2 linked regions of the Homo sapiens genome follow. The protein of the gene in region 1 interacts with the protein of each later gene in a biochemical or structural test. Each region holds a gene or a part of one and is shown in the gene's direction. Other genes may lie near its edges.

The links. The genes of interacting proteins can lie anywhere in the genome.
Region 2: the proteins of SLC17A1 (region 1) and PDZD2 interact in a test that uses a peptide from one of them, tested with the Homo sapiens proteins (one large-scale study listed by IntAct).

What each region holds. Positions count from the first base shown.
Region 1 is NC_000006.12:25,824,393-25,829,514, reverse strand, and holds part of SLC17A1 (sodium-dependent phosphate transport protein 1), read left to right. Parts: intron 1-2,881; coding exon 2,882-3,054; intron 3,055-5,122. UniProt on the Homo sapiens protein: Important for the resorption of phosphate by the kidney. May be involved in actively transporting phosphate into cells via Na(+) cotransport in the renal brush border membrane. Plays a role in urate transport in the kidney.
Region 2 is NC_000005.10:31,644,590-31,649,711, forward strand, and holds part of PDZD2 (PDZ domain-containing protein 2), read left to right. Parts: intron 1-5,122.

The sequences.
Region 1 (5,122 bases):
TGTAGAGACTCCTGCAGGTGTGTTTACAAAGTTTCTGATAGCTTTCTAGATCCATTCACTTCCCTATGATACTGAGTTTAGGCAGCAAATCAAAGGAAGGGCTGGCTGATGATTAAATTTCTCAGGGGTATTCTTTTACCCCCTTCTATTCAGCTCTTAAGTTCATATGGCACAAAATTTCTTGGCAGTCCACTGACAAGATAAGGGGGCAATGTGTTCATCCTCCATTGAACCATGTAAATCTTTGACATCCAAGCATTTTAGGAGAGGGTCTCCTACTATACACTATCGCATCGCTAGGACCTTGGTATTTGATTCCTGTTGTCCCCATATCATGGAAGGCCAAAAATCCCAAGATCAAAAGTCCACAGTGAAACATCTGACTTCAAGGCCCAACTTATGTTTTGAGGCCCCCATCTTCACTAAGCCCTTGGCCTGAATATTTCATCTTTCCTCTTAGATCACCCATGCTTTTAAAAAAATGGTTTATTTTAAGCATATTTTATCTAATATTCTTATCTTTTAACAACGGAAGCTCAGTTGGCCAGAAAACTAGCCAACTATTTGTTGGGTACTAATGCTTTTTTTCATTTAACAGTTTATCTAAAGAGTATTCCACAATTTTTGGCAGAGATTTTCCTTAGCATTTTTATAGCTGCAAATGACTTTGGTATGGATGGATATATTATAATTTATTTAAATGGTCACTGATTTATAAACATCTAATTTGTTTACAGTCTTTTGCTAGTTCAAACGATTCTATAAGAATGTTGCAAAATGATATAAAATTCAATTCGGTAAGATGATGTAAAATATTTATTATCTAATAAAATAGCTTCCAATATATAAAGCAAAATAGTCTTATGAAAATTATAAAGACACCAAATCCTAAATAAAATATTAACAGAACAAAACAAATCTAAGAATTTATAAAAACATTAAAAAAGCAACCACCAACACTAAGTCAGGTTTATTCTTAAAATAAAAGAGTAACTTAATGTTAGAAAATGTATACATGTCACTCCACACAAATTAATTGAAAGAGGAAAACAGTATGATTATCTCAATAGATATAAAAAATCTATTTATTTATGATATTAATATTTATTTGCAATAAAAAATTCTTAGTTAACTATGAATGTGCAGTAGACAGAATTCCAAGATGGCACCCAAGCTCCCTGGCCCCTGTTTTATTCTTGGGTGGAACAATGAGCACAGAGGATACAGCCCAAAGCCCAGAGGGTGGAGCCAAGAGCCACAAGAATTATCTCCAGACCTTATGAAAAATCCAACATTGGCCTGGCTGAACTTCAGAACCTTTATGGATCGATGACTCCTTTTCTCCTCTATTTTTCCCACCTTGGAACTGGAATGTCTATAGCTTTATCCTACACCTGTTCCACCATTACGTGGTAAAAGTGTTAGGGGCATATAACTTGTCTCTTTAGTTTCACAAGCCCACAGATAGAAATTGTGCCCTAGGAGGGATTAATCATAGGCCCCTCTTCCACACCTGATTTAGATGATGAGATTTTGGACTTTGTGCTATGAGATTTTGATGAGGTTTTGAACTTGAGCTGATAATGTAATAAGATGAAGAATTTGGGAAGCTTGAAATGGGTGAATATGTTTTGCACGTGAAATGAACATGAGTCTTTAAGGGCCAGATGGTGGACTGTAGTAGGCAGAATTCTAAGTTTTCTCTCAAGATTCCCAGCCCCTGGTGTATACACACTTTCTCCCAGTTATTTAAGCAAACATTAAGCTAGGTGCTGCTTCAAGGGGTTTTGCAGATGTATTATGGTCCCAAATCAGTTAATCTTAAATAGCGAAATTATGCAGTTAGGAGAGATCTAATCACATGAGCCCTTTAAATCTGGTTGTACAGGTCAGAGGCAGAGTAGCTAGATTCAAAGTGTGAGAGGGATTCAACATAAAGTAGGTTCCCATTGCTGATTTTGGAGATGGAGGGGGCCATATAGATTAACTTTGCCTGTTTTTGAACTTCATAAAACTAGATTCCTATAGTATATACTGTCTGGTATCTAGCTTCTTTAACTGAACATGTTTTTGTTGAAATTCATCCAGATTTATCCAAATTGTTGTGTATAAGTAGTTCTTTCCTTTTATTTCTGAGTAATATGCATTGTATTAACATACCATGATATGTCCATTCTTTCCAAACATTCTGCTATTTTGAATAAATCTACTATAAACATTTCTGTATGTGTTGTTTTGTAGACATATACCTGTATTTCTCTTGAAAAAAATGCCATTTGTTGAAAAACACTTTACTTTCCTCCAATGGATTGCATTAGTACATTTATTTTTAAAAAGTTAACCATATATGTGTATCTGTTTCTGGACTCCCTACTTTCTTCCATCAATGAACTTGTTTGGCTGTACACCAACTGATTACTCTAGCTTATATCAATAAGTAATTACATTTTTTTAAAATGCCATTTTTTTCTCTGCATTGGGCATATATAAGTCTTTCAACCAGAGTATTTTTTAAATGTTGGAAAAGGAATAGTTTTCTTGACAGAAAATGTCTTTGTTGTAATTAGGGGGACTTATGTCCAAGAGTAACACAGGGTATTTATAAAGGGTCTTTTAAAAAATAGACTTGAGCCAAAGAACTTGAAAGATTGGCTTGATTTTCTTGGAACTTCTAGCTGGAAATACAATTTTAAGGAGAATATGGTATTATTATATCAGTCTCACATCTTCTTATTATATAATAATTATCAAAGGTCATTAAGTACAATAAAATTTTAAATTAATATCTAGGGCTCCAAATTTCTGAATGTCCCTCCTATAGTTAAAGTATGTTTTTATCTCAGCTCTGTCAGCAATTGCGACTTTCTGTTTTACTTTGTAGTTCCAGGTTTCTGTTCCTTTCGCTATGGATTGTCTTTCCTTGTGCACTGTTGTAATGTTATAATAACAGCACAGCGTGCGTGCCTGAACCTCACAATGGTAGTCATGGTGAATAGCACAGATCCACATGGTTTGCCCAACACCTCCACAAAGAAGCTCCTGGATAATATAAAGGTACATCAATAATTTTCCCCACAGTCAAATGTTTAAAAGCCTGTCTTGCTAACTAATTTGTGTAGATATGGAATTGTACTGATATGATACTATATTTGAAAAAGAAGCTCAAGTCTTCATCTACCTTGCCAGGAGTGACCTAAATAAAATGTCCCATGATTAAAGTATGCCTCAGTATTTCTGAAGGGCTTGTTGTGTAAATCCTTCTATGTGAGAGAGAATAAAACCCAAGAGTTAGGGCTTCTTTACAATCAAGAAATTTGGACAAGAGGAAAAAAAGGGAAAGCATTTTAAATTAGGAGTGGAAGGTGAAGACACATTACATTTTTAAAGTTTTTGACTTGCAGGATATTTAAATGTTTCATTAATTTCATCTCTGGAAGATAATCAGTTGTTATCTACCAGAAGATGTAGATGCAGCAAAAAATAAAAACAAGATAGGTAATGTCAGTAAAGAGATGGAAACTATAAAAAGAATGAAAAAGCAATACTAGAAATCAAGGAAATTATAACAAAGAATGCTTTTGAGGGGCTCATCAGTAGACTCCACACCACTGAGGAAATAATTAGTGAACATGAATATGGGTCAATAGAAACTCCCAAAGTTGAAATGCAAAGAGAAAGAGAATTTTAAAAAATTAACAGATCTTTCCCAAATTGTAGACAGTATCAAATGGTGTAACATGTGCATGACCAGAATGCCAGAGAGAATAGGAAACAAGAAATATTTTTTTCAAAAATTGGCTGAGAACTTTCCATAATTAATGACAAACATCAAACCACAGATCCAAGAAGCTCAGAGAACACCAAACAAGATAAATAGCAAAAACAAAAACAAAGAAAAGCCACCTAGGCATACCATATTTAAATTGCAGAAAACCAAGACAAAAAGAACATTTCAATAAAACCAGAGGAAGAAAATACCTACAGAGGAACAAATATAAGAATTACAGCAGACTTCTTATCAGAAACCATGCAAATAAGGAGAGAAAAGTGAACTTTTTAAGGTGTTGAAAGAAAGAAAACCCCTGCCAACCTAGAATTCTGTATTCAATAAAATTATTGACAAAACTGAAAGACTGTAAAATTTCAAGCTGTAGCTATAACTTGAGAAAGCCTTTATTGTCTTTCAATTTTTGTCCTTCAATTTTCCCTTCATATATACGAATTTACTGCCAGCAGGCTTACCACAAAAGAAAAGTTAAAAGATGGTAGATTTTAATCCAACTATATTGATAATCACTTTAAATGTGAATGTTCTAAACACACCAGTTAAAAGACAGAAATTGTTAGAATTGATAACAAATAAAGATCCTCAAATATTCTATCTACAAGAAATCCTGTTAAAATATAAAGACTCAGATAAGTTAGAAGTAAAGGGATGAAGAAAGATGTAAACTATGCAACCATGAAAACACAAATCAAAAGAAAACTGAAGTAGCTATATTAATTTTAGACAAAGCAGAGTTTATAGCAATGAAGATAACCAGAGATAAAGAGGGCATTACCCAATGATAAAAAGAGTGAATTATCCAAAAACAAATGATTCTAAACATGTGTATCCCTAACAACAGAGCAGCAAAATATAGGGGGCAAAAACTGTGAGAACTGAAAGGAAGAATAGAAAAATACATACTTGGTAACTGTTTTCTATTTGTTAAATCTGTTCTTTGTTAATTTTTTTTTCATTCACATTTTGCCTTCTCTGGGTTTAACTGAGCATTTTATATGACTGAATTTTATCTCCTCTCTTGATATATCATTTATACCTGAAAAAACTATTTTAATAGCTTCCATAGGTTTTATAATATACATTTGTAATAATACAAATCTACCTCCAAATAACACTATACTATTTCATGTATCATGAAGGCATCTCGTAACAGAATATTTCCAATTCCTCTCTCCCATCTCTGTGACTACTGTTATTCATTTTATGTATCTATATGTTATAAATACTCAAAACATTCCTTCAACAAAAAGTTATCTTTTAGATCAATTCAAAATAAAATATTTTCCACTTTCATTTATTCTTTTTTAAATTTTTTGTTTATTTATTTATTTTTTA
Region 2 (5,122 bases), on another chromosome or scaffold:
TCCAGGAAGAGGCCTACCCCCGGCCGTGGCTTCTCTCCAATGCCAGTAGTGTGTTCACCCCACACTCTTGATGGGGCCAGCAAACAGTCTCCATTCTGAAAGTTCTGGCTGCTCCATGCATGCATTCCCTACCAGAATGCGTTCTGAGTGAATAATGAGTGGTCTATGAACTTCCAGAAAATCAGAAACTTAAGATTCTCAACTCTCTTTATGAAGCCATTGAATGAAACCAGATAGCATTGAACACCTGGTTGACAAAGTTATTCTTGGATTATATGTTTTTATATACAGTGTTTCTGGGGCTCATCAAGCCCTCTAGGTAGGAGGCCTGAAGAGGTTTTGGAGAAGCAGCATTGGGGGAACCGACTTCACAGCACAGAGGATTAATTTTGCACACACAATTGTTGCGAGCTCTGAATGAAATAATAGCAAGGAGATGGGGGAAGTTTTGTTGTCTTTTAAGTCTAAGAAGCAGCCTGAAATGCCTAGATATCCACAGGAGGATTTAAAAAATCACAAATTCTTAAGGATCTGCAAGTCCTTGAAAGGGCATTATCCAATCTCTTGCCTTCAGGGAGGAATAAACTTAGCTCATTCCAGTTAAGGATCTATGGTTTTAACAGCTTCCTGAGGAAGGGGCGTCCATGGCATATTTGGCCCTTAACACAGTGATGCCCCAGACTGGTTCTTTGAGGTGTTTTAGCAGGAGTCGAAATGGATTTCAGAGGGGTTACTCTTGGTCTCTTTTTTTTTTTTTTTTTTTTTGAGACGGAGTCTTGCTCTGTCGCCCTGCCTGGAGTGCAGTGGCGCGATCTTGGCTCACTGCAACCTCTGCCTCCCAGGTTCAAGTGATTCTCCTCCCTCAGCCTCCTGAGTAGCTGGGACTACAGGTGCGTGCCACCACACCCAGCTAATTTTTGTATTTTTAGTAGAGACGTGGTTTCACCATGTTGGCCAGGATGGTCTTGATCTCTTGATCTTGTGATCCGCCTGCCTTGGCCTCCCGAGGTGCTGAGATTACAGGCGTGAGCCGCTGTGCCCGGCTGGTCTCATTTTTACCAACACTTGGACACCTCTAGTACTTGGCTTTACAAGCCCTAGACTTTATCATCCAAGTTAACACAACAGACCCTGTTGTCCTGGCCTCAGGACAGCCATCATCCTGCTTGGCTAAAAATAAAGGCAGCACTCATATAGTGTAGAATTAGTATTCCTACCGTGAGCAGGGGCACGCTTTGTGCTGTGGCTACCCCAAAGTCAATTCCCTGGCTGGGACCTGCCAGCTCAGGCAGTGGGAGTTGTACTGGGAGGAGGGTGGGAGAGATGGTAAGTTTGGATCTCAGTGTACTCAGTAGGGGGAAGGGGGTGGGGAACTGGGCTGCCTTACATGGGAGGCCTCCGGGCATCCCCAGGCAGCTGGTGGGAGGAGAGAGGGTGTCAGGGAGCTTTGCACTGCGGGGGGGCCTTCTCACTACTGTCACTCCTAGGGAGATCTCAGGATACCTAGGCGGAAGAAAATAAACACCAACTCTTTTGTCCCTTTCACCAAAGGCCAGCATGTTTCCGATGCCTGTCTAAGGTGAACCTGGCTTGTCCTGTTTACACGTCCTGGGATGTTACTGTAATTCCAGTATTCCAGAAGACTCTGTTTCTGGAGACTGGAGAGGCAAGTGTATTTTGGGGTAGCCATAATATCTTGGGTTGGTGGGTACAAGTTTGAACACCTAGTAATGCCCCTTACCCCTGAGGAATTCCAGGGACTGAGCCACCACAAATGTCTTCAGGAACCTGACCCCTCCACGTCATGAACACTAAGTAGCTCCTGACACTGCTTATGTTTGCTTGCAGGTGATCAAATGGAATCATACACTCTCTCCAAGAGCACGAAGGTTTCTTTTTCTTTTTCTGTTTAATAAAGCAAGATGTCAATAAACTCTACATTTTTGTGTGTTGGCCAATGGACACTTATAAAATGTCTGATTTCAGCTGTGTTTTCAGTTGAACACCCCCCACCACCCGCCCAACACCCTCTTTCTGGCACAGTGTGTTTTATGGAGATTTGGGTAAAACTAGATTGTGCTATATGGGTCTCCTGATGAAGAGAATTCACTTCCAAGGCTAAAGCAGCCATGCAAATATTATTACAAAACCACTCAGCATACAAAATTGGCATAGCTTTCCTCCACAGTTTGCCACTGCCCACTCTCCACTCCTACCCCGCCCTGGCCACCTTAATTCCCAGTATCATTAGGCCGAAAGAAGGGACAGCTGTCTCCAGAAAATGTGCTCCGAGTGTCCCCATCAGCGTGGATTCCCAAGAGAGAGCAGGCAGTGAGATGGCACAAGGAGAGGAAGGTACTGGAAAGAATTGCATTAACTCCTCTCTGGACTTACTGCTCATCTTTAAAAACCTAAGCAGATGTCAGGCTTATTGATTTCTTTATTGGTGGCAGCTGTGGAGCTGCAGTCCACTATTTTTGGCACCTGGGAGATGCACACGGCCCCTGAGCACACTTCCCGCCTTCTGATCCCTCACCTGCTCAGCTTCCCAGGCTCCGTCTTTATCTTGAGGATCTCTGAAGACTGCCTCTTCCCCTGTACTCTTCAGGATCCAGTACAATGCCTAGTACATGGGTAAAAATTAAAATTATTTGAATGTTCACTATTTGGCAGGCACTGTTCTAGACACTTGCCACATACAGCTCATTCAGTTCTCATAATCTGATGAGGTACATACTGTTATTACCCCATATTCATTTCCTGGGGCTGCCGTCAGAAATTAGCACAAACTTGTTGTCTTAAAACAACTGAAATTTATCCTCTCACAGTATCCTCTTCACAGGTCCGAAGTCTGAAATCAAGGTGTTGACAGGGCCGTGCTCCTTCTGGAAGCTCTAGGGGAGAATCCTTCCCTGCCTCTTGCAGCTTCTGGGAGCTGTGGACATTCCTTGCACTGCTTCAGCCCAGTCTATGCCTTTGTCTTCACGTTGCTTTGTCTGTGTGTCTGTGTCTTCTCTCTTGTCTGCATGTCTCTACTTTGTGTGTCTCATTTATAAGGACATTTGTCATTGGAGTTAGGGCTACCCAAATAATTCAGGATGATTCCAACTTGAGATTTTTAATTTAATTACATCTGCAGAGACACTTTTGCCAAATGAGGACACATTTGCAGGTTTTGGGATGTGGGTATATCTTTTGGGGAGCTACTATTCAACACAGTACAACCCCTTTTGTGATGGAAAAATGGTGATACATTGTGGTTACGGAATTCTCTGAGGTTGCACAGCCAGGAGTTGGTAGAATTGGAATTTACACACAGCAGCCTGGCTCTAGAGCTTGCATATGGACCACTACTCTCTTTTGCCTTTTAGTAAATGTGCTCCGTGATTGTTCACGGTATGAATGGAGGGCAGCATGGCTGGGGAAATAGATGGATGAAAAGATGCTGGTAACAGTAGTTGGCCAACATTCTCCTTCTCAATGTACTGAAAATAGTAACAACAACTGATATTCATTGTTTTATGCTCTTGACCTGGGACTCGTCCTTGGATCCTCTTTTTTGGCTATTCTAGGGAGAGCTCAACTATCTCGAGGCATTGCCTACCATTTATGCACTTCTGCCTTCCAAATTTATGTCCATAGCCTTGATTTCTCTGCTGTGTTCCAGACTCATGTGCCCCACTGCCCCCTTACCATTCCAGTGGGGGCGTTATAGGGATCTCTAACCTAACACAACAAAATGCAATCCTTGATATGTCTCTTTCAAGCTAGTTCTTTCCTTCTCCTCCTCCCGTCTCAGTAAATGGCACCACCATCCACCCAAAGGCTCATTCCCAAAACTAGAAACCACTCTTCATTCTCTTTTCCCGACACTCTGTATCCAAATCCAGGAATAAGTCCTGTTGGCCCCACCTCCAGCCTCCACCTTGTTCTCCCGCCTCCACAGCAGCCGCCCTTGTTAAAATCACTGCCATCTCACCCCTGGACCCATGCTGCAGTCATCTTCTAACCGGGCCACCTGAGGACACCCTTGACCCCAGTCCTTTTCCTCCGAGCAGCCAGAGGGGTCTTTTATTTTTTTAAGACTTTTTTTTTTTTAATATAGCAATTTTAGGTTCACAGCCAAATTGAGAAGAAATTACAGAGATTTCCTGTATACCTCTTGCCCCTACACATGCAGAGCCTCCACTCTCATCAACATCCTTCACCACATAGTTCATTTGTTACAGTCGATGAACCTGTGTTGGAACATCGTTATCCCTCGAGTCCATAGTTTACCTTAGGGGTTCACTCTTACATTCTATGGGTTTGGATAAATGTATAATGTCATGGGTTTGGATAATGTGTAATGTCATGTATCCACCATTATATTATATGAGTAGTTTCACTGGCCTAAAAATCTTCTGTGCTCTGACTCCTATTCATCCCTCCTGCCCCCCAACCCAGAGGGGTTTTTTTGTTTGTTTTTTTAAGAGATGGGGTCTCACTGTGTCGTGCAGGCTGGTCTCAAACTCCTGGGCCCAAGCGGTCCACCCGCTTTGGCCTCCCAGAGTTCTGGGATTACAGACATGAGCCACTGTGCCCGGCCAGAGGGGTCGTTTAAAAACACAAGTCGTATCACTCCCTGGCTTAAAACTGGACATTTCTCGTTGCCATTTCAGTGTGATTCAGGCTCCTTGCCCCAGTCCACCTCTCCTATGACTCCTTCTCTTAGCACTCATTGCCCTCACTCCATGCCTGACATGCTGTACTTCTTTCAGTTTTGGAACACACCAAGTTCCGTCCCATATCAGAGCTCTTTTTCTGCTTGGAAACATCTTCCCCCAGATCTTCACAAGAACATATGATCTAACAGGAAACAGGACCACCCCCAGGTACTCTATCACATGACTCCTGTTTGAAATAAAATATTTGATTTATTCATTTATTATCTGTCTTAGCTGTTGGATCATACGCTCCATTAAAGCAAAGAACTAGTTTGTGTATCTCACATGCTGAAAATAGTTCCTATTTCTGCCTTTCCTTTAAGGTTTCAAGGAAGAGGGTTTAAAATATCAAGTCTCGGCTGGGCGCGGCAGCGCATGCCTGTAATCCCAGCACTCTGGGAGGCCAAGGCAGGCAG